Regions from separate parts of the Homo sapiens genome. Here region 2 is reported to be linked to region 1. Evidence: microRNA targets listed by miRTarBase, many of them from high-throughput screens and not tested one by one. Region 1 holds a microRNA gene; the other region holds the end of a gene's coding sequence.
Evidence for each region. Region 1 holds the annotated microRNA hsa-miR-4430 (AGGCUGGAGUGAGCGGAG, at 4,265-4,282, opposite strand). A microRNA usually pairs through its seed, bases 2 to 8, with sites in the 3' UTR of a target mRNA and lowers its output. Matches are read on the target gene's strand: a 7mer-m8 pairs with bases 2 to 8, a 7mer-A1 pairs with bases 2 to 7 and ends in A, and an 8mer does both.

Region 2: miRTarBase lists RHBDL2 as a target of hsa-miR-4430. Seed matches in the 3' UTR shown: 7mer-m8 at 5,096-5,102.

The regions. Positions count from the first base shown.
Region 1 is chr2:33,410,525-33,422,800 of GRCh38, reverse strand. It overlaps MIR4430 (microRNA 4430), which reads right to left and starts at 4,285; the gene lies at 4,237-4,285.
Region 2 is chr1:38,878,821-38,891,096 of GRCh38, reverse strand. It overlaps RHBDL2 (rhomboid like 2), which reads left to right. Exons shown (of 8, transcript NM_017821.5): 7 at 3,073-3,134; 8 at 4,414-5,290. The coding sequence ends at 4,593. It overlaps GJA9 (gap junction protein alpha 9), which reads left to right and starts at 9,510. Exons shown (of 2, transcript NM_030772.5): 1 at 9,510-9,665. It overlaps GJA9-MYCBP (GJA9-MYCBP readthrough), which reads left to right and starts at 9,471. Exons shown (of 3, transcript NR_037637.1): 1 at 9,471-9,665. RefSeq lists a silencer at 11,286-11,470.

The sequences.
Region 1 (12,276 bases):
CCGATGTGACTTTTCATTTATTGCTGTGGCTTTTTGCCTCTGTCTTTGTTCAGGCTGCTATAATAAAATATCAAAATCTGGGTAGCTTATAAACAACAAAAATTTATTTCTCACACTCCTAGAGGCTAGGAAGGGGATGCCTACAGATTTGGTGTCTGGTGAGGGCCTGCTTTCTCATAGATGGAACCTTCCTGCTGCATCTTCACATGGTGGAAGGGACAAGGCAGCTCCTTGGGGCCTCTTTTATAAATGCACTAATCCCATTCATGAGGGTAGAGGCCTCAGGACCTCATCACGTCTCAAAGTCCCCACCTTCTAATCCCATCACTTTGGTGATTAGGTTTCAACATATGAATCTGAGGGAGACACAACCATTCAGACCACAGGTCACCTCAAGATCTAGACCATGTTCCCTGCCTTCTAAAGATACAATTTCATGTATCTGTGGACCAGGTGCCAAAGAGTAGTTACAGGCATCAGGGATAAGACAATGGATACAAGTGTGGAGAAGAACTATCTTAGATGCAGTGGGTGGTTGGGAAGAGTTGTTGTTCGTATTCATTAAAAAGAACATTGGTTCTTCCAGGGGGGAGGTGGAGAGTCTTATTAACAGTCAACACAAGTTGTGTCAGTGGAGTTGTGGAAGTCTTAGGCTCAAAAATCAAGCACACCCATGCAGCAAAAACATGCCTCCTAACTGCTGTGTAACACTGTGAGGATGCTCTCCTGGTGCACATCATCTCCATGATGCAAGCCTCCCGGAAATAATTGCTAAGGATCTCAAGGTTAATAAGGAGCAGGAATGTGGTAAGGATCTCAGGGTTGATAAGGAGCAGGAATGTGGTAAGGATCTCAAAGTTGTTAGGAACAGGAAAGGCAGGGAAGTATATGGAGGTCTGAGGTCTGTACGTTTGCTAATAGGTCATTAGGCTTCTTTAGCCATGGCTTGATTTTTTTTTTTTTTTTCTTGAGACAGTGTCTCACTCTGTCACCCAGGCTGGAGTGCAGTGGTGCGATCTTGGCTCACTGCAACCTCCACCTCCCAGGTTCGAGCTATTCTCCTGCCTCAGCCTCTCGAGTAGCTGGGATTACAGGCATGCATCACCACGCCTGGCTTATTTTTGTATTTTTAGTAGAGACGGGATTTCCCCATATTGGCCAGGCTGGTCTCGAACTCCTGACCTCAGGTGATCCGCCCGCCTCGGCCTCCTAAAGTGCTGGGATTACAGGAGTGAGCCACCGCACCTGGCCACCATGGCTTGATTTTTAAAACATCATAGTGGCCCAAATAATGGCACCAATAGGTGACCTGTGTAGGCTTTTGGCACCCATGACATCCACTGGCCTCCACCCCTGAAGTTATCCCAAATAAACATACACTCAAAGTAAAATAGGATTTGTGTTATATGAAAGCAGCTTCCAGGCAAACTCCTTAGCTCCCCTTCCCAACCCACTTGTTACTCCCAAGCCATATACAGAAATCTGGTGCTACCACTCATACCTCTAATTCTATCATGGCTCAAACCTGTAGGAAGGCACCAGTTGCTCTGATCTTCATGAATGGAGCCTGATCAGCCTCATTTTCCCAGTAGTGGATGTTTGCTGCTCAGGCCAGACCCCATATTTGATGTGATATGCCCCAGCATAATACATGGACAGTTATGTGCCCTCCTGGAGGTGCCAGCAGAGAGTGGCGAATATAACCAGCTGCAGTGGCTTGCGGTCTGCCCCAGAGCTTTGTAGATTTGACATGGAAATTAACTCTTCAGGCAACAATCCTAAAAGGTCTTCCTGGGACCAGTCAGGAAGCACCGATGATTGTATCTCTGATCCTGGACCAGCATGAGGACTGTAGTGTCCAGGCTGAATGTCCCTTCTTTCTATTGTTTTACATATTCATGTGCAGGAAGGAGAGCATGCCACATAGTATAGTCAGGAATCCTGCCTGTTTGAAAGAGTATAATTCTAGATATGAGAAAAACAATGGTTCAGAGTTTCCCACAAACCCTAAGCCAGAGGTGCCGCTTGTGGTTTTCAAAGTGCTTGCAAATTCTTTGACACTCTTCCCATCAAATAGTAGAGTTTATGTTCCCTCCTGTTGAACTTGGGTGGGCTTTTGTAACCGCCTTGATGAACAGAATGTGGCAGAAGTGAGGATAATTCTGAGTGAAGTTAGACATACAGCTTCTCCTGGCTTCTCTGGGGAGAACTGCTCTGTGGGGCATGGGCTTCCATGTACAAATCAAGATACTCTGAAAAGGACCACTTGGAGAGTCTAAATAAGTAGACAGATACCTAAGGAGCCCCAGTTGTTCCTATCCCCAGCTTCTTGAGTCTTCCCGGCCCAGGTGCCAGAGCTTTCAAGATGACCCCAGCCTCATCCACCACGTGACTACAGCCTCATGAGAGACCTCAACCCAGCTCAGCCAACCTGCTTCCTAATTTCCGATGCCTTGAAACCATAAAAGACAACAACTGCTTGTTCTCGTTTCAAGCCTTTACAATTTAGGGTGATTTGCTATGCAACATTAAATAACAAGACCACAGCCTGAGTAAATGAAGCTGCTGAAGGGAGCCCAAGAGAAACTCGGAATTACCTCCAAATTTCTCTGAAGAAAGGATTCGAGGTAAGGAAAAGATCTGCAGCTGCTTGTAAGGCAGATCATCTGTCTTCACCATGCTGAAAGAGCAAGGTGGACTCCTGCTTGAAGAGCACTGTAACTTACTCATGCAGTAATGTGGAATCAGGAAAGGAAAGTGATAGTAACAATTTGCTTACAATTGCCAGGGCAAGGGCAGAGACTTGGAGAACACAGTGGGAAATGAATGGTAAATATGTCATTCTCTACTGGAGGCAGGAGTGGGAAGTAATTAGCTGGGGAGGAGTGGGAGCTGGCTAAGGTCAGAAACAGTGACCTTACAGCATTATTATCTTTCAAATTCAAATACACTTCTATACCTCGCTTTGGGTTGCTGGGACAGAAACTGCAAACGACATTTCTATTTTTCCAGCCAGATACCTTTCAGGCTCTTTAGGGGGTGGTAGAGGGAGCCTGCAAGGCTGGAGGAAGAAGAGAGAATTTGCTGCCTCCTGTCTACTTCTTATTCCTGTGATGTCACCTGAGCAAAGCTTCTTCAAATGGGCAGAGGCACGGCCTTCTCACAGCAGCAGCTGAATCTGCTTTTCAATTTTGTCCCATTTATAAAACACGCTCCTTTGTACCCACTCAGAGACATTAACCCCAGCCAGCCAGTACCAACTCCTCAGAAAATTTGAGTCTCCAAGACTCCTACTCTACGTTTCCAAGTTTAATAATTCCAATCTCTTCCCTCTTTTCCCTCAGTTGAAAGGGTGGTAGCTGATGACTGCAGTTGCCACTTACCTCTGTGATACTTTAGAGATCTTTTTTCCCTTCTCAGTTACCTAGCTAATGGCTTTTTACCTAGTTGCAATTCTTCATATTAAAATTTTCCTTTTCCTTTACCTGGTGTGGCTTCTGTCTGCTGAATGGATCCTGACTAATAAAAGGTATTTCTTCCAAAGAAAAATCTATGATGGTAACTGAGGTTGGGGGTAACTGAAGGTTCAAATAGCAGGGAGATCAAGTTCAAATACCAAATGCAAAGACCACAGACAGAATTTGAAAGAGTGACCACAAAGTTAGGAGGTTGAAGGTGGGCAGAGACATAAGCAAAATAAGAGTAGGACTGGAACAAGATAGAAGGCTTAGGGTGATTGCTATGGAGGTGGAAATTATCAACCCATCCACCTACCCGCTACCCTCCCCCAGTCAGTAGGATGGGTAAAGCTGATTTAAAAACCTCAGGCAAGGCCAGGCGCGGTGGCTCACGCCTGTAATCCCAGCACTTTGGGAGGCCAAGGTGGGCAGATCGTGAGGTCAGGAGGTTGAGACCATCCTGGCTAACATGGTAAAACTCTGTCTCTACTAAAAATACAAAAAATTAGCCAGGCATGGTGGCATGCGCCTGTAGTCCCAGCTACTCGGGAGGCTGAGGCAGGAGAATCACTTGAACCTGGGAGGTGGAGGTTGCAGTGAGCCGAGATCGTGCCACCGCACTCAAGCCTGGGCGACAAAGCGAGATTCTGCCTCAAAAAAAAAAAAAAAAAAAAATCTCAGGCAAAAGTGGACATTACTTGTCTAGATTTGGGGTTGATGAGGGTTTTTTATTGGAGGTGGGAGTCGTTTTGTTTTTTTGAGACAAGGTCTCCCTTTGTCACCAGGTTGGAGTGCAGTGGTACGATCTCCGCTCACTCCAGCCTCACCCTCCTGGGCTTAGGTGATCCTTCCACCTCAGCCTCCCGGGTAACTGGGATGACAGTCACATGCCACCATGCTTGGCTAATTTTTAAAATGTTTCGTACAGATGGGGTCTTGCTATGTTGCCGAGACTTGCCTTGAACTTGTGAGCTGAAGCGATCAAGTTCTAAGAGCAGCTTATAATATGATTTTTAACGCATGTTGTCTATGATCATAGAGGGAGATAGACATGGAAAGAAAGAGGGCCTTTTCTGCCTTGTGCCTTTTTCCATGTCTATTCTAAGGACCAGGATTGCCTTGAGACCAACACTGTGAGAGCCCTGACTCAGTATCCATAGATATTCTATCTGCACATTGCAGAGCACTAAGCCAGTCCGCCTTCTCAGCTTCAGACTAGTCAGTTTCATGGACTTTCAGCATCTCTGTGTAGATGTTTCCAGGCACCTCAAACCCACCATGCTCAAGGATGGATCTAATCTCTTTTTTCATTCAGATTTCCCCCCCGCCGCCACCATGGAAAGCAGGTAGGAAACACTGGATTTCTTCAATGTAGCCCCCCAAAACAGAAACCTGGTTGCCTTTTCTTTTTTCTTTTTTTTTGAGATGGAGTCTCACTCTGTCGCTCAGGCTGGAGTGCAGTGGTGTGATCTCGGCTCACTGCAACCTCTGCCTCCTAGGTTCAAGCGATTCTCCTGCCTCAGCCTCCTGAGTAGCTGGGATTGCAGGCGCCCACCACCACACCCGGCTAATTTTTGTATTTTTAGTAGAGACAGGGTTTCACCATGTTGGCCAGGCTGGTCTTGAACTCCTGACCTCAAGTGATCCGCCCGCCTCGGCCTCCCAAAGTGCTGGGATTACAGGCATGAGCCACCACGCCCGGCCCTGGTGACCTCTTAGCATCTTCCCTTTTTGCTTCTTCTGGCTTCAAACTATTTGAAATACTCTGTGTGACACATCAGTGAACAAAATGAAGTCTTGTTGCCTAGTTGGGAAAAATGGAAAATCAGCAAAAGGTAAATCTGGGAAAGACTTTTTATTTAAATTATTTCTCTTTGAAGGGACTCATGAAAAATTGAGAAAATAGGGAGCGGTACTGGTCATGAGGAATGTGGGGAGGGAATCCTGAAATCTCCAGCTCTGATTTGCAGAGAAGGTTTGAGAATAAAGAGCTCCAAGAGCTGTTTGACTCATGTTGGCCGATCCTGAAATCCAGAAGTCCCCTGGCAGGAAACCCTCTGGAGACGACAGACTAAACCATCCTGCCATTGTCAGCCTCACAAGGGGCTCAGCAACTCAGCAAAAGGAAGTTGTTTTTTTGTATTGCACTTTTTTTTTGTCTTAAAGAGATATCCTTCTTAATAGTTACATTAATATCTTGAATAAAGATGGAGAGTGTATGTCAACTTGGAAGAGACAGCAACCATACTGGAAGTCAGAATCAGAATCTCAAAACATCTTAACATAAGGCTAAAGAAAGGGACCAACAACAGAAGAGAAATTAATAGGAGCAAAGGTAAAATTTTGTACTGAGGTTCAAAAAGCCACTTGTAGAAGTGCAGAATGGGGAGATGTGGCTGAACAGGACCCCAAACTTTTCAAGCTTGTTCTTGATGTTCTCTCAGTCAGGGTATGCTAACTGCTATAATGACAGTGCCCAAGTCCCAGTGATTTCAAGATATCCTGTGGAGAAAAAAGTATGGAAGGGGCCAGGCACAGTGACTTATTCCTGAAATCTCGGGACTTTGGGAGGCCAAGATGGACAGATCGCTTGAGCCCAGGAGTTCAAGACTAGCCTGGGGAACATAGCGAGAACTTGCCTGTACTAAAAATAAAAATAAAAATAAATCAGCCGGTCATGGTGGCGTGTACCTGTAGGCCTAGCTGCTCGGGAGGCTGAGGTGGGAGGATCACCAGAACGCAGGAGGTCAAGGCTGCAGTGCGCTATTGTCGTGACACTGCACTCCAGCCTGGGTGTCAAAGTGAGATTCTGTCTCAAAAAAAGTGTGGAAGGGATAACAGTGCTGGCTCAATTGATTGCTTCCTGTGAGACTGGACATTTCCATTAACATGTGCCCAGCAAAGGGATTTTTAGATAATATTATCTAATTTTAACTAAGTTAACCCTCATATTGGAAAAATTGGCTTTAAAAATATTTCTGTAAAAAAATAGGTGAAAGAAAGACAACAGCAGAATAAACCTAAAGAAAATGGCAGAGCAAACCCTTCTGTTCTAAATATAAATTCTACATCAGCCACAATATGAGGTTAAAAGAAAAGAATGGTAGGATAATTAGACCAGCAGGTAGTCCCTTCAAATCCAAAGTTATCAAGAAGACCATTTAAATTATGAATTTATATCCACTGCCATTAATGATAAAATTCTTCCTAGTTGGCTGGCATGTTATGTCTTAAGATGTTAACTAGTAATAATATAAAGTTATTATGATTAACAAGATATTTGAAAGCCAAACATTCAAAATGGAAGAAAAATTTCAGCAGCTTTTTGAGAAATTTCACAAAACCTACTAATAATTGCTCAGAAACTTCTTTTGAGGTTTTTTGTTTTACGGTTAAGAAACAAAAGCCACAAACCATTGGGGTCTCTGGTTCTCCCTGCCACAACAAAAAATGTTGAAATAATTATAAAACAAAAGGCCAAAAACTAAAATTCACTCTTTTGTCAGCAATTTTTTGGGAAGTCACATAGTAAATATTACGGAAGATATGAAGAAACAACTTAGTATTGGCCATGCATTTGGGTGAAAGTATAGGTATTTCTATCATGTCTCAGCTTATGGCATTTTTTGGATTCTATTTCAATAGTTACATTCTTGAAGAACTGCTTTTTTTTTTTTTTGAGACAGAGTTTTGCTCTTGTCGCCCAGCTGGAGTGCAATGGCGCAATCTTGGCTCACTGCAACCTCCGCCTCCTGGGTTCAAGTGATTCTCCTCCTACCTCAGCCTCCTGAGTAGCTGGGATTACAGTCACCCGCCACTAGGCCCAGCTAATTTTTGTGTTTTTGGTAGAGACGGTGTTTCACCATGTTGGCCAGGCTGGTCTTGAACTGCTGACCTCAGGTGATCCACCCGCCTTGGCCTCCCAAAGTGCTGGGATTACAGGCGTGAGCCACCGTGCCTGGCCAAAGAACTGCTTTTTAATGAAGCACTTTAAAGAAAAAATCATACTGGAAAATCAGACTAAAGAATATCTCAATGATAATTTTTTTTTAAAAAAACAATATTTTATCGGAAAACTTTTAAAGTATAACCACTGAATTTACAAGAATAAAAGGTATTCCTGCAGAGGAACAACAAAATTTCCAGAAACCTTGACAGAGATATTCATCTCAGTGGTGTTCATCCAATGTGTCATTCAATGGGGAGCTAATGCACCAAGAAATTGATGCTGGAACGTGCATAATACTCTTGATATCAACAATGCAATTCGTTTCAAAGAAAACCTGTAAGCAGCAGAACTTTAGAAGGTTATAATGAGATAGAAAGTCTTTGAGATTGTATCATAATCCTTCTTGTTCTTCTACCCAATATTGATTTTCTTCTCTTCTCTTCTAGGGGTATTTTCCCAAGAACACTCCCTAATTCGATCCCTACATGCTAATCTCCATTTCACAGTCTGCTTTCCAGAAGACCCACTTGCAATGGTGGCAGGAATGGTCCAAGAAAGCACGTGCCCATGTGAGATTCTGCAGCTGCCAACCACCGGCCAGCTAGCAGTGAGAACCCAGATAACCAAGGTGTCCTTGAAAAAGTGACAGTTAATGTGACACCTGAAGGGGCATTTAGTCAGACCAAGGAGTATTGGTAGGAAGAAGAAGAGAAGTATTCCAAGCAAGAACCAACTGTGGCCAAGTCCCAAAGGGATAAAGAGTGAGTTACAATCACGGAATTAAAAGATATTTCTTGCGACTGTGTGTCGGGTTATTAGAGGGAGACAGCAAGAGGGCACACAGCCCAAGATGAGGCTGAGAAGGCAAGCAGGGGACATGCAGATTTATCTGGAAGAGGCCAGGCACAGTGGCTCACACCTATAATCCCAGCACTTTGGGAGGCCGAGGTGGGTGGATCACCTGAGGTCAGGAGTTCGAGACCAGTCTGGCCAACGTGGTGAAACCCCATCTCTTACTAAAAATACAAAAATTAGCTGGATGCAGTGGCATGCGCCTGTAATCCCAGCTACTCGGGAGGCTGAGGCTGGAGAAACACTTGAACCCAGGAGGTGGAGGTTGTTGTGAGCCAAGATTGTGCCACTGTATTACACTCCAGCCTGGGCGACAGAGTGAGACACCATCTCAAAAAAAAAAAAAAAAAATTTATCTGGAAGACAATGGAAGGGGAGATGATGCGAAGGGAGTGGGGAGTGAGTGACTTTCAGAGTGTGAGTTGGACAACCAGACAAGGCAGAGATTATCTAAACTCCATGGAAGCAGGAGCCTTGCCTGTGCTGCTATATTCCCAATGCACAGCACTAGTCTGGTAGGTCTTCCATAAATATTTGTTGAGTAAATGAATGAATGCGTAGATGAATAAGCTGGGAAGTTGAGATGATAAGTTCACTTTTGGACACAGAAATTTTTTTTTTTTTTTTGAGATGGAGTCTAGCTCTGTTGCCCAGGCTGGAGTGCAGTGGTGCAATCTTGGCTCACTGTAACCTCCACCTCTTGGGTTCATGCCACTCTCCTGCATCAGCCTCCTGAGTAGCTGGGACTACAGGCGCCCACCATCACGCCTGGCTAATGTTTTGTACTTTTAGTAGAGACGGGGTTTCACCATGTTAGCCAGGATGGTCTCGATCTCCTGACCTCGTGATCTGCCCGCCTTGGCTTCCCAAAGTGCTGGGATTACAGGCGTGAGCCACAGTGCCCGGCCTTGGTCATAGAGAATTTTGAGTGCCCATGGGTCCTCTTTTGAAAGTGTACACTGGGGATTATACAACCTTTTGTTCAATTCTGAAGATAACCAGTGAAAAAATAACTCCTGTGTCCTTATTTTGAGACCATTATTCTCCCCCCACATTTAGAAGTTTGAAGTCCCCATAAGACCTGTGTAATCAATACCTAATCACCTTGAACCAAATGTGATTTTAAAAATGGGAGTGGCTGAGTATTGATCTTAACTAATGGAGAAACTGCCTGACTCTTGTGATCATCCAAATCCCTTTATCTTGTTTTAACCATAATGCACATAATTATCTTTTTTTTTTTCTTATTTTTAAATTTTGGAACTTGAGCCTAACATGTCATATGCATATCACACTAAGGTGTTCTGGTCAAAATTAACTGTAAGAGTATGGCACTTTTAAATGGACAAAAAAGGCTAGCTAATGAGTAGAAGGAAAATGAAAGAATAGACGGGAATCCAAGGATTTTTACTGCCATCCAGTGGTGGAGCTCTCAGGCAAATATGATGTAAAGCCCCCAGTCAGTCTTCATGTTTTCCACTGCCAAGTCCCAAATGCATTCATTCAAGCTTAGTGACTAACTTGCAATGCTAGCCTACCATACAAGTTTGTATTGTGTTTTCTTGATTTTGAAAGTAATTGGTTGGTCCTCTTGTGATCCTGAAGAAGATCATAGCCTTCCATAAGTAGCCAGTTTAAGAGTTACTTGGGCTGGGCGCAGTGGCTCACACCTGTAAACTTTGGGAGGCCAAGGCGGGTGGATCACCTGAGGTCGGGATTTCAAGACCAGCCTGACCAACATGGGCAAACCCCGTCTCTACAAAATATACAAAATTAGCCAGGCGTGGTGGCGCATGCCTGTAATTCCAGCTACTCGGGGGGCTGAGGCAGCTGAATTGCTTCAACCTGGGAGGCGGAGGTCGTGGTGAGCCGAGATCATGCCATTGCACTCCAGCCTGGGCAACAAGAGTGAAACTGTCTCAAAAAAAAAAAAAAAAAAAAAAAAAAAAAAGAGTTACTTGTACTTGATGAGGGGAGAATCTGACTCATTAATGCCCTCATGTTGCCAGCACACTCAACCCCTTCTTGCTTTCCCAAGCCCACCGCAAATTCACACCCTTATGGAGAGTGAATCTCACAGATTCACCTTTAAGTCCCAACTGGCCATTTCCAAGTTATTTTTTATCTGTGATTTTATAACTGTTGGCTCCTAGATGGACAGCTTAGAACCCATGGCAACAAAAAAAGGAATGGAAGAAACCCTAACTCATTGACATTAAACAAGCAAGCGCCTTTGCCAACCTGATGGAGAAAAATAAATAAAATTGTTATCACCAGATTTAGTCTAAAAGAAAAATAATCGGCCCAAGCATAGCATGCATGTTTTACAAACTGCACTTTTTTGGCCTTGACAAACACCATCCAGTTTACCCAAAGTTCATAAAAGGTTAATGTTTTCTACTTTTGAAATGCACATATACTGTTCTCTGTGTGCTAATGATGTGGCCTCTTAACCAGGGTTTGATTTTTCTGTGCCCATCCACCAATTTGCTCAAAGTCATGGTCTCAGGCAGTGACGTCATTCCTTGACACTAAAAACAAACACCATCCAGATCTCTGTTTACTTTCTCCTGCAGGTTTATGTCCATCGAAGCAGTGCCGATGGGAAAGTGCACAGAGACCACAGGGTTTTGCTTGTACCCAGTGGTTTAAGCAGCTGGTTCCCAGGGACTGGCCCAGACCAAAACAAAACAAAACAAAAAAATAAATTCCAGAGAATGCTATGCAAACTACATAAAATTCTGAAGAATGTGAAGATGAAGGCACACAGTTGGCATCCAGTATAAGGTCAATATCTATATTTAGTCTACATCTATATCTATATTTACTTATTTACTGAAATATAAGGCTTGCCAATTTTACAAGGAAATTCTGGGGGAAAAAAAATCAAAGTAGTTTTCTTCCCACTTGTTTTAAACATTGTTTTTTGTTTTTTGAGGCGGAGTCTCACTCTGTCGCCCAGGCTGGAGCGCAGTGGTGCGATCTCTGCTCACTGCAAGCTCCGCCACCCAGGTTCACGCCATTCTCCTGCCTCAGCCTCCTGAGTAGCTGCGACTACAGGTGCCTGCCACCACACCCAGCTAATTTTTTGTATTTTTAGTAGAGATGGAGTTTCACGGTATTAGCTAGGATGGTCTCGATCTCCTGACCTCGTGATCCACCCACCTCTGCCTTTAAACAGTTTTTTAAGTGATTCTACAGATACAGGTGTCCAGATGAAAACCACTGGTTATGGTTATGTAGCAATGTTCCACTAATTCTACAAATAAATAATATCATGTGGTTAAAAATAAATATTTCGGTCGGGTGTGGTGGCTCACACCTGTAACCCTAGCACTTTGGGAGGTTGAGGCGGGTGGATCACCTGAGGTCAGGAGTTGGAGACCAGCCTGGCCAACATGGCAAAACCCTGTCTCTACTAAAATAACAAAAATTAGCTGGACGTGGTGGCGCACACCTGTAATCCCAGCTACTTGGGATACTGAGGCAGGAGAATCGCTTGAACCCGGGAGGTGGAGGTTGCAGTGAGCCGAGATTGCACCAATGCACTCCAGCCTGGGTGACAGAGTGAGACTCTGAAAAAGAAAGGGAATGGAAGGGAAGGGAAGGGAGAGAGGGACAGAGGGAGAGAGGGAGAGAGGGAGAGAGGGAGAGAAGGAGATAAGGAGAGAGAGAAAGATTTCAGTATCTGTGACTTTTGGCACTGAGTAGACTATAAAACAAAATGAATTTATTGGTAAATGAAATCCTATATCCTACATAGAATACTATAGAGATATCAATACAATCTTCCAACAAATAATGGAAAGCAAAAGTAAATAACTTGAAATAAATTTGAATAAACTTTCATAAACACTAATAGAAATGAACTAGCAAAACGGTATATGAACAATATTCTTTTTTTTTTTTTTTTTTTTTTGAGGTGGAGTTTTGCTCTTGTCACCCAGGCTGAAGTGCAATGGCATGATCTCGGCTCCATGCAACCTTCGCCTCCCAGGTTCAAGCAATTCTTCTGCC
Region 2 (12,276 bases), not on the chromosome of region 1:
GGGTTTTACCATATTGGTCAGGCTGGTCTCGAACTCCTGACCTCAGGTGATCCACTCACCTCAGCCTCCCAAAGTGATGAGATTACAGCCGTGAGCCACTGAGCCCAGCCAAGTTGTAAATATTCTTCTTAATTGTAAATGGCAATTGCCCTAAAAAACATTCCTTCATCAAGCATTATGTTTGAGACCATCCTGTGAAACATAGGGAGACTCTGTCTCTACAAAAAAATTGGTCAGGTGTTGCGGTGTGGGCCTGTGGTTCCAGCTACTCAGGAGGCTGAGGTGGGAGAATTCGCTTGAGCCTGGGAGGTCAAGGCTGCAGTGAGCCGTGAACATGCCACTGTAGTCTAGCCTGGGCAGCAGAGCGAGGTTGTCTCAAAAAAAAAAAAATCCATATGAAGGCAACTCTTTTAAAGTAAATGTTAAATTTTTAAGGAGGACAATGGTTTGGCTTCTTGGAATAAGGGCTTATTTTCAGGTGGGAAGACACATCTCAGTTTAGAGGCTGCAGCAACCCAGAAGAAAAGTCCCCTAGGAAGCAGAAAGAGGAAAGAACCAGACTCAGATATAGGAAGGGGCAAGATGAGAGAAACTGGTTGGAGAAATTGACATACTAATGGTTACAAAGACTTTCTGAGAGGAGGTCTCCTATTGTGGAAGACTAAGCCAAAGTAACTGTTTCCAGTTATGTGGCAGTGTTTTTTAAAAACACTTTCCTAGACCCATGGGCATGTTATTTATGTGGACCAGGAAATGCAAATGATGATTGAAAATATGGGCCAGGCACGGTAGCTCACGCCTGTAATCGCAGCACTTTAGGAAGCCGAGGCGGGTGGATCACGAGGTCAGGAGATCTCATGGTGAAACCCCGTCTCTACTAAAAATACAAAAATTAACCAGGCATGGTGGCATGGGCCTGTAGTTCCAGCTGCTCAGGAGGCTGAGGCAGGAGAATGGCGTGAACCCAGGAGGTGGAGGTTGCAGTGAGCTGAGATTGCACCACTGCACTCCAGCCTAGGCGACAGAGTGAGACTGCGTCTTGAAAAAAAAAAAAAAAGAAAATATTATATAGCCTCATGAATCTAGCACTTTGTGTAATAGTCATTTACAACTAAATGAATATTGAATATTTCCTCGACCTCAATTTCTGTCCAGTGACTTCAACATCAATCAATACAGTATTGAAAGGGAATCTAGTCAGAGCACATGTCCTGATGCTATTTTCCCAAAGGCAAGGACTAGGTCTTTTCATCTCCTAGGACACAGTGGCTCACTAAGTAGAGCATAGGGAATTAGGGGATGGGTGTGGAATGTGATAGCTGCAAGAGATGTTTCCAAGCACTACACATATAGGGCAGAGTTCTTCTAGGCCAAGAAGTCGGAAGCTCCTTTTGCAGTGCAGATCCGACTTACTTGACGACTGCCTAACTTCTGGCTCTCACAGTTTTATTGGAGAATATGGAATGATTTCCTTTCATGGCCTGACACCTTCAGAACTCCCGATGGTAATTACAGGCAATTAGTGTGGTGGCTGAGAGTGGAGTCTTGGTGTCTTGGTTTCTTTATGTATAAAATGCCACCATCCTTCTTCACTTCGATTGCTACAATAGTATTTTTCCAGCTGGTCTTCCAGTTCCTGTTCTTGCTCCCTTATAGTCTACTTCCTATATGGCAGCTAGAATAATCTTTGTAAAACCATCAGTGTGGTTGCTCAAGCCTGTAATCCCAGCACTTTGGGAGGTCGAGGTGGGTGGATCACCTGAGGTCAGGAGTTCGAGAGTTGGAGACCAGCCTTGTCAACACGGTGAAATGCTGTCTCTACTAAAAATACAAAAATTAACCGGGCATAGTGGCACATGTCTGTAATCCCAGCTAATCAGGAGGCTGAGGCACGAGAATTGCTTGAACCTGGGAGGCGGAGGTTGCAGTGAGCCGAGATTGCACTACTGCATTCCAGCCTGGGCGACAGAGTTGAGACTCTGTCATAAACAAACAAACAAAATCTATCATGTCACTCCTGTGCTCAAGAGCTTTCAAAGACTTCCTATCACTCAGTAAAGGTTGAAGTCCTTACAATGGCCCATATAGACCCTACATAATCTGTCCCCTGCTACCTGTCTGACCTCATCACCCACAACCTTATCCCTAACTCTAGTCCAGAATCACCTGGAGGTCTTGTTAAAACAAAGTTGTTGGAAACAACTTTACCACAGTTGGTAGTTGGAAAACACAGCCATGGAAGTAGGAATCTACTAAGGAGAGTACAACTCACCTTCTGAAAACAAAAACAAAAACAAAAACAGAAAGCTGAGTCCCACCCTTAAGTTTTCTGGTTCAGTAGGTCTGGGGTGGGTTTAAGAGTTTTCATATCTAGTAAGTTTCCAGGTGAAGCTGATGCTGCTGGTCTTGGTAAAAACCACTTTGAAAACTACTGATCCAGCCAGCTCAACTGCTTTGGTATTTTTCAAACACACCAGGCACATTCCTGCTTAGGGACTTTGTACTTGGTCTTCCCTCTCTCTGAAACACTCTTATGTCAAATAGCAGCATGACTTGGACCCTTACCTCTGTCCAGCGTCATATTCTCAAAGAGATCCTCCTTGACACCCCTATTGGAAATCACACTCGACAACTGGCATTCCTATTTCTTCTTCTCTTTGTATTTTCTCCATAGCACTTAGCACTATTTGACATACTGTATGTTTTACTTATTTGTTTGCCTCCCTACCAATCACCCCCCCACATACCCCCCAACAGTTTGTCAGCTCCATGAGTCAGGGCTGTTAGATCTGTCCATTGCTGCCTATCTACCAGCTAGAATAATGCCTGACACATAGAGGACAATGAATGCTTGTTGGATGAATAAATCTGTAAAATGGGATAATGATAGTTCCTACTTCACAGGGTTGTGATGAAGATTAATGAGTTAAAAGATCTCTTAGAAAAGCACCTGTCACAGAGTTAAGTATCAATAAATGATAGCTAGTATTATTATTATTAGAGGGGAACCAAAAACATTTGGTGTACTACTGTGGAGATTCTGAGCCTTTATCAGGGTGTTTTTCCTTCTAGTTGTGTTGGACATGGGATTTGCTCTCTATAGAAGGTTCTTTGTTCCTGAAGATGGGTCTCCGGTGAGTTCAGTTTCTTTCTTTTATAAAATAGAAATTAGTTTACTGTCAAAAAGGGTTATCAAATAGGGGTTACAACGCTGTGATTTAGGGCAGCCAAATTTCCATTTGGAAGTTAAGAAAATTTTTAAGGAAATCAGACTTTTGAATTGTCCTTCCCACTTAACTCTCTCACAGCCCTGATCACTGGCTCTACTTCACTGCACCTGCCATATTGGTAGCTATTCCAAAACAGGAGAGAATGGCCAGGCGTGGTGGCTCATGCCTGTAATCCCAGCACTTTGGGAAGCCAAGATCGGCGGATCACAGGGTCAGGAGTTTGAGACCAGCCTGGCCAATATGATGAAACCCCGTCTCTACTAAAAATACAAAAATTAGCTGGGCGTGGTGGCAGTCACCTGTAATCCCAGCTACTCGGGAAGCTGAGGCAGGAGAATCGCTTGAATCTGGGAGGCGGAGGTTGCAGTGAGCCGAGATCGCACCACTGCACTCCAGCCTGGGTGACAGAGTGACTCTGTCTCAAAAAAACAAAAAACAGGAGAGAATGGATTTTCCTGTCCACATAGAATAAAAAGCAGTTGGTTTAGCCAGGCATGGTGGCATGTGCCTGTAGTCCCAGCTACTTGGGGAGCTGAGATGGGAGGATTGCTTGAGTCCTAGAGGTTGAGTCTACAGTGAGCTGTGATCATGCGACTGCACTCCAGCCTGGGCGACAGAGTTGAGACCCCATTTCAAAAAACAAAACAAAACAAAAAAACAGATTGGAAAACAGCAATGAAAGATTGAGTTCTATAAGTTGACAATAAAGAAAATTGACAAAATTTTCCAGTTTTGCTGTGATTTGTCTTTGAATTTGGTAGTTTCTGTTTGGGTATTTCTTGTGTATGTTATTACTTGTGTTTTAAATCTGAAACCCCATGTATGTGGAATCAGATTATGCTGCTATAGAGATCCCTCATGGCAACTCAACCATTCTCTTAGTTGGCATTATATAGAATTATTTTAAATGCAATGATGATTAAGAATGAGAAACAATTTCTCTGTCTTTTGTACTCTAAGAATGGGTGAAAATGACATTTTTAAGCTTTGTATCTTTCAGAGTATCTCCTTCTCTCTGTGCACATGGAGTTTTGTGTCTCTTTTGCCTTACCCCTAGTTCTCTAGACCTTTAAGACTCTTGTTTAACTGTGACGGTATTTGTGTTTGAATAAGAGAGATGCAACTGAAATACACAATTAGCATTGTCTTCACTTATTTCCATTTTCCCTCCTTTTCTCCCAAGGTGTCTTTTGCAGCTCACATTGCAGGTGGATTTGCTGGAATGTCCATTGGCTACACGGTGTTTAGCTGCTTTGATAAAGCACTGCTGAAAGATCCAAGGTTTTGGATAGCAATTGCTGCATATTTAGCTTGTGTCTTATTTGCTGTGTTTTTCAACATTTTCCTATCTCCAGCAAACTGACCTGCCCCTATTGTAAGTCAATTAATAAAAAGAGCCATCTGGAGGAAATAAAAAAAAAAGGAAGACTCTATGAAGAAACAGAGAAGTCTCAGAAAAGGCTAACAATTTTATATAGAGGACAAAACAGCATTAAACTCATCAGTTGCAAAGATTGCCTATAAAAGGACCTTAGGATTTAAGGAAGGGGCTTCTTAATGTAGAAAGGGAAGAAGAAGAGAGAAAAGAAGGGTAGTAAAAACTAGAGATTGGGGCCAGGCGCAGTGGCTCACGCCTGTAATCCCAGCACTTTGGGAGGCTGAGGCGGGTGAAATCACCTGAGGTCATGAGTTCAAGACCAGCCTGACCAATATGGTGAAACCCTGTCTCTACTAAAGAAAATACAAAAATTAGCCGGGCGTGGTGGCGTGTGCCTGTAGTCCCAGCTACTTGCGAGGCTGAGGCAGGAGAATTGCTTGAACCTGGGAGGCGAAGGTTGCAGTGAGCCGAGATTGCGCCACTGCACTCCAGCCTGGGTGACAGAGCGACACTCGGTCTCAAAAAACAAAACAAAACAAAACAAAATTAGAGATTGGGTCTTTCCCAGGCATATGGTATTCTATAAAACAGACTTACTCTCCTTGGAGGATATATTTTGGAGAATGCTTCATAAAATCTATGAATACTGTACAATGCTGATAATAAAAACTTTTTATACCTGTGTCAGACTCCTGATAATCACTTTAAAATAGATCACTGTTTGAGGAGATAGATCACTACTGTTTGAGGTGTTTTACACACTTTATTGATAATATTATCAACAACCCGGAAAGGTAGTTATTACTCTGCATCTTAGAGTAATCTTAAAGAATCCCTTAAAGGAACCCTTAAAGAATTAAGTACTTGTCTGAGGGGAGCAGAATTTAAACATAGATAATGACTTGGAAACCTGTAGTCTCCCCTATAGGTCCAACAATGCTGTGTTCCCCAAACACTGAAGGGTATCATAGGAGTACAGGAACAAACATCTATGCGGGGTACACCATGAATGGTGGAAATATCTCATAGAAGAAGACTGAGGATTTTCTGGACTGCTAGTTTAAGATTCTGATACCGTGTCTAAGATCCCAAGGAACCGGGCACTGGCTTTCTGGTGCACACTATATACCTAGACTTCAGATTCTCATCTGTGATCAGACTGTCATCCTTCATGTGGGTCATGGCTCTCCTAGGAGTGGGTAGGATTTATTTACAGAAGGTAAAATGTCATACCTGAAAGCTGAGAAGCATGTGTCATTTTCCTGTATAGAATTCAGACTGTGGTTTATTATGTTTTTGGAAATGGTAGTTTTGGGTCATCTGAATATAGGAAATATAATTTTTTCTTTTATCATCAATGTATTTATTAAACACCCATCTAAACATGTCACTGTATCTGGAAGGGGCATATACACTTAGTTAGATATAGTGAGAAAAGTTAATACTTTAGTATTTTGAGAAAAACTGATCAGAAATTTGTTTAAAAAGTTAAATTTAAGTATAAACATGGGAATATGAGTGTTTTTTTTTTTGTTTTGTTTTTTTTTGAGATGGAGTCTCGCTCTGTTTCCCAGGCTGGAGTGCAGTGGGCTGATCTTGGCTCACTGCAACCTCTGCCTCCTGGGTTCAAGCAATTCTCCTACCTCAGCCTCCAGAGTAGCTGGGATTACAGGCATGCGCCACCACATCTGGCTAATTATTATTTTTTTTTTTTTGAGACCGAGTCTTGCTCTGTCGCCCAGGCTGGAGTGCAGTGGCCGGATCTTGGTTCACTGAAACCTCCGCCTCCTGGGTTCAAGTGATTCTCCTATCTCAGCTTCCTGAGTAGCTGGGATTACAGGTGGCCGCCACCAAACCTGACTAATTTATTTATTTATTTATTTATTTATTTATTTATTTATTTATTTATTTATTTTTAGTAGAGACGGGGTTTCACCATGCTGGCCAGGCTGGTCTCGAACTCCCGACCTCAGGCCCTCAGGCGATCTGCCCGCCTTGGCCTCCCAAAGTGCTGGGATTACAGGTGTGAGCCACTGTGCCCGGTCCCTAATTTTTTTTTTTTTTTGAGATGGAGTTTCGCTCTTGTCATCTAGGCTAGAGTGCGATGGTACGATCTCGGCTCACTGCCACCTCCACCCACTGGGTTCAAGTGATTCTCCTGCCTCAGCCTCCTGAGTAGCTGGGATTACAGGCACCTGCCACCACGCCTGGCTAATTTTTGTATTTTTAGTAGAGACGGGGTTTCACCATGTTGGCCAGGCTGGTCTTGAACTCCTGACCTTAGGTGATCCGCCCACCTCGGCCTCCCAAAGTGCTGGGATTACAGGTGTGAACCACTGCACTCGGCTAATTTTTGTATTTTTTAGTAGAGACGGTGTTTCACCATGTTGGCCAGGCTGGTCTCAAACCCCTGACCTCAAGTGATCCACCCACCTCAGCCTCCCAAAGTGCTGGGATTACAGGTGTGAGCCACCATGCCTGGCCTTATGAGTGTGTTCTTGGTTAAACAAAGATTCAAACAAGAAGTTAAAAGATAAAATCTCAGCCAGGTGCAGTGGCTCATGCCTATAATCTCAGCACTTTGGGAGGCCAATGTGGGAGGACTGCTTGAGCCCAGGAGTTTGAGAACAGCCTGGGTAACATTCAAGAACTCTACAAAAACATAAAAAATAACCAGGTGTGGTGGTGCTTGCCTGTAGTTCTAGCTACTCCAGAGGCTGAGGTGGGAGGATCACTGGAACCCAGGAGTTCGAGGTTACAGTGAGCTATGATCATGCCACTGCCCTCCAGCCTGGGTGACAGAGTGAGACCCTGTCTTAAAAAAAAAAAAAATCTCCTTTTGCCTTCTCACTTCAAACCTGCTGTTTTTCCCTAGTGCTGACCATCATCAGTGGTCACAACAGTATGGTCTGTATCCTTGCAGACATTTTTCTATGTAGGATGAGCAGAAAGGAAAATGGATTTAAGTTAATGTCCAACTCATCCACTGTATTGAACTTCACTGAATCTGCTCTACACCCTCAAAGGGACAAATCTGAAGAACAAATTAGAGGTGTCCATGGTATAACTCCTCCTAAGCATCATTTGCTTCTCAGATTGATCTCAACTAGGAAAAGTTTTTGTTAATCGATTTTAGCTAAATATATATGTGTGTGTGTGTGTGTGTGTGTGTGTGTGTGTGTGTGTGTGTATATATATATTTTTTTTTTTCTTGAGACAGGGTCTTGCTGTGTCGCCCAGGCTGGAGTGCAGTGGCGCCATCTCGGCTCACTGCAACCTCTGCCTCCTGGGTTCAAGCAATTCTCCTGCCTCAGCCTCCCGGGTAGCTGGGATTATAGGCATGTGCCACCATGCCTGGCTAATTTTTGGTATTTTTAATAGAGACTGGGTTTCACCACATTGGCCAGGCTGGTCTTGAACTCCTGACTTCAGGTGATCCGCCTGTCTCAGCCTCCTCCCAAAGTGCTAGGATTATAGACATGAGCCCAGCCTCTAATTAGATATTTTTATGAAATGTAGGTTTTAACAGGATAAATGTGATACATGTATTGTTCTATAACTTGCTTTACAACATGACCTAGGGACCTTTCTCTATTAGTTCATAGAAATCTTTATTCTCTGAATTGCTGAATGATATAGATGTACCATAGATAACCATTCCTCTGTCAGACATTTAAATTATTGCTGCTTTTGTATAATTACCAACAGTGCTATGTGAACATCCTAGCATGTGCAGTGTGTCTCTGAATGTCTATGCTGAATGAATATTTCAAGTATCCAAAAGCAGAAATGCTATACTAATATTGATAGGTTTAAACTGCCTTTTAAATAGCTGTATCCATTTATATTCTTACCTACAGGATATGAGAGTAACAGTGTCTCCCTACTTTGCCAAAAGAAGGTATTATAAATCTTTAAAATTTTGCATTTTGATAGTTAAAAAATAATATTTCACTTAAATATGTATTCTCTGACTACCGAGGTTGAGGAAGTTTCGAGTTTATTAATAATTTATGAGTTACACATATGTAATTCAGATAACACATAATATAGAAACATGAATATATTGTGCATGTATGTGTGCCTATACAAATATATATATATATAAATAATATATATATAAAAATATATATGTAAATATATATATATATATATATATATATATATATATATATATATATATATATATTTGTCCCTGGTGAAATGTTTGTATTTAATCTGAGAAGTAGCTATTGTTGGCAAAAAAGCCCAGGGAAGAAGTATTTATCTGTTATGCTCAACCTGCCAGATCACTAGCTCTGAAGGGACCTTTAATGACCTAAAATACAATGTAATTGTTAATAACAGAACATGGGAGACAGAATCAGGATCTATCTATGAAATCGGACATGACCCATTTATTAAGGCAGATGACCAAGAAGTTATTATCTAGTAAGAAAGACTTTTTTGGTTCTAGAAACATGGTTTATTGCACAAAAAACAATGACATTTTATTAGGTTCCCCCAGTGGCAAAAGTTGCATACAAACAGCACACAAATACCTCCTGTCATTTTAAATTTGACATCTCTGAATTATGGAGGAATCATTCACTCAGCTTAATTTGGGGCTCATGACTTTAGTCTTCTAGATTGCAGTGTGTTATCAGGACTATTATAAGCATTCTTTATCTGTGCTGTCCAAAAAAGCAGCCATTAGGTAGATGCAGCTCTTTACATTTTTATTAAAATTATTTAAAATTAAAAATTCAATTGCTCTGACACACAAACCATAATGCAAGTGTTCAATAGCTACATTTGGCTACTGGCTGCCTTATTGGCTAGCACAGATAGAATATTTCCATTGTTGCAGAAAGTTCTATTGGATGGTGCTGTTTTAAAAGCAAGGATAAGCAGAAAGGGACATGGATTTTAGTTGATGGATGACTCACTCACTACATTCAACTGAACTGAATCTGCTCTATACCAGCAAAGGGACAAATTCAGAAAATAAATTGAAGATGGCCATGCTGTAACTTCTAAACATGGTTTGCTTCTCAGATTTACCTAAACTAAGAAAGGTTTGTGTTAATCTCTCTGTTTTAGCTTATTAAGAAAGAGTTGTTTGAAATGTTTTTATCTTTTTCTTTTGAATTCTATGGTACTGTATATATGTATACCAGTTTTTATGTCATTTGCTATGAAAGCTTTAATTTGTAGCTAAATACTACTGCTCCTTCTTTCAGGAAATACTATGTGTTGTCCTTTATGAAAAAAATATTTTCTTTCTTTTTATGATTATAAAAGTAAAATGCTTATAGTAAAAAATTAAAATACATGTAATTACAATATATTAAGTATATAATTTGTAATCCCAACATCCAGAGCTAATCACCGTTAATATTTTCATGAATATCCTTCTAGACTTTTTTGTATACATCTGTAAATGTAACTAAACTTATAATAATGGGGCCATATTATTCTATTTTATAACATCAATTTCACTGAAATGAAATATCAAATGCCATTTTATGTATGTTTATCATTTCTACTGGTTGCATAGTATCACACCGTGGATGTAGTCGATTATTTAACCAGTTTTTCTTGTATTATTATTTTATGTTTTTAGCTTATGACTATTATAAACAACATGAATTACATCTTTGCTTACATTATTATTATTTATGAACCATAAATGAGACTTAACTTGCTTACTTTTTTTTTATTTTTTGAGACAGAGTCTCACTCTATTGCCCAGGCTGGAATGCAGTGGCCAGATCTCGGCTCACTGCAACCTTCACCTCCCAGGTTCAAGCGATTCTCCTGCCTCAGTCTCCTGAGTAGCTGGGATTACAGGCATGTGCCACCATGCCCGGCTAATTTTTGTATTTTTAGTAGAGATGGGGTTCAACCATGTTGCTCAGGCTGGTCTCGAACTCCTGACCTCGTAATCCGCCCGCCTGTGCCTCCCAAAGTGCTGGGATTACAGGCGTGAGCCACCGCGCCTGGCCAACTTGCTTACATTTTAAAGTGCTTTGGGTTGTTGGGTCAGAGTATGCTATTATTATTATTATTATTATTATTATTATTATTATTATTTATTTTTTTTTGAGACAGAGTCTTGCTCTGTCGCCCAGGCTGGAGTGCAATGGTGTGATCTCGGCTCACTGCAACCTCTGCCTCTGGGTTCAAGTGATTCTTCTGCCTCAGCCTCCCGAGTAGCTGGGACTACAGGCGCCCGCCACCACGCCCGACTAATTTTTGTATTTTTAGTAGAGCAAGGGTTTCAACCATGTTGGCCAGGCTGGTCTCAAACTCCTGACCTCAAGTGATCCGCTGGCCTCGGCCTCCTAAAGTATTGGGATTACAGGCGTGAGCCACCGTGCCCGGCCAGAGTATGCTATTATTAACATAATAAAGTCAATGGAAAGTTTCTCTATTTCAGGAATACAACTATATTTTAGAAGGTTGATGCTTTTGCAAATCGTATTAACAGAGCCGGGCGCGGTGGCTCACGCTTGTAATCCCAGCACTTTGGGAGGCCGAGGCGGGAGGATCACGAGGTCAGGAGATCGAGATCACGGTGAAACCCCGTCTCTACTAAAAATAACAAAAAAATTAGCCGGGCGTGGTGGCAGGCGCCTGTAGTCCCAGCTACCCGGAGAGGCTGAGGCAGGAGAATGGCGTGAACCCGGGAGGCGGAGCTTGCAGTGAGCCGAGATCGCGCCACTGCACCCCAGCCTGGGCGACAGGGCGAGACTCCGTCTCAGAAAACAAACGAACAAAAAAAACAGAACAAAGGCTGAAGAAAGGAACTAAAGACTCTAGAACTAGTTATTTAAAAAGCCAAAGCTATCACTATTTTACATTCCTAAATTTAAATGATTAAACTTAAGAGAAAACAGATAATCTCTTAATGTTTCTTTCCGGCAAATTTGAAGTTTGCTTACAGAGGAAAAATAATAGTTTAGTAAAAAATTTAAGGAGCTGACTCTAAAGCCACAATGATTGGGTTTGAATGCCAGCTCCAGCTGTGTGACCTCAGGTAAATTAAGGTGTGCTTCCGTTTCCTCATCTGTAAGATGGGGGAAACAACATACTTACCGCATAGGATTTTAGTGATGAACACATCTTGTATCTTAGTAGTTTGTTTGATTGTGTAACAGTTCCCTTTATATAAAGGGGACAGGACATACATTTATATTTTAAATGAAAAATAATGAAAATATTCACTTTTAAAATCTTTCCTTTGGGGTATATTTCCTCTGAGATAACCTGGGATACCAACCTTAATATGCAATCTGCCGGCAAATAATCCAAGCAGCTAAATTATAACTTGCCCCACTGCTTCCTTCAAGAGAGCAGCTATATGTCTTAAATAGGTCAAATACTGCTACAGTGAAAGTTTCCATAATACTGCCACCATACCAGTGAACAATCTATTGCAAGTAATATCTATAATGAGATTCTGGTACCATAAGGCCGGGCGCAGTGGCTCACGCCTGTAATCCCAGCACTTTGGGAGGCCGAGGCAGGTGGATCACCTGAGGTTGGGAGTTCGAAACTAGCCTGACCAATATGGAGGAACCCCATCTCTACTAAAAATACAAAATTAGCTGGGCATGGTGGCGCATGTCTGTAATACCAGCTACTCTGGAGCCTGGGGCAGGAGAATCACTTGAACCTGGGAGG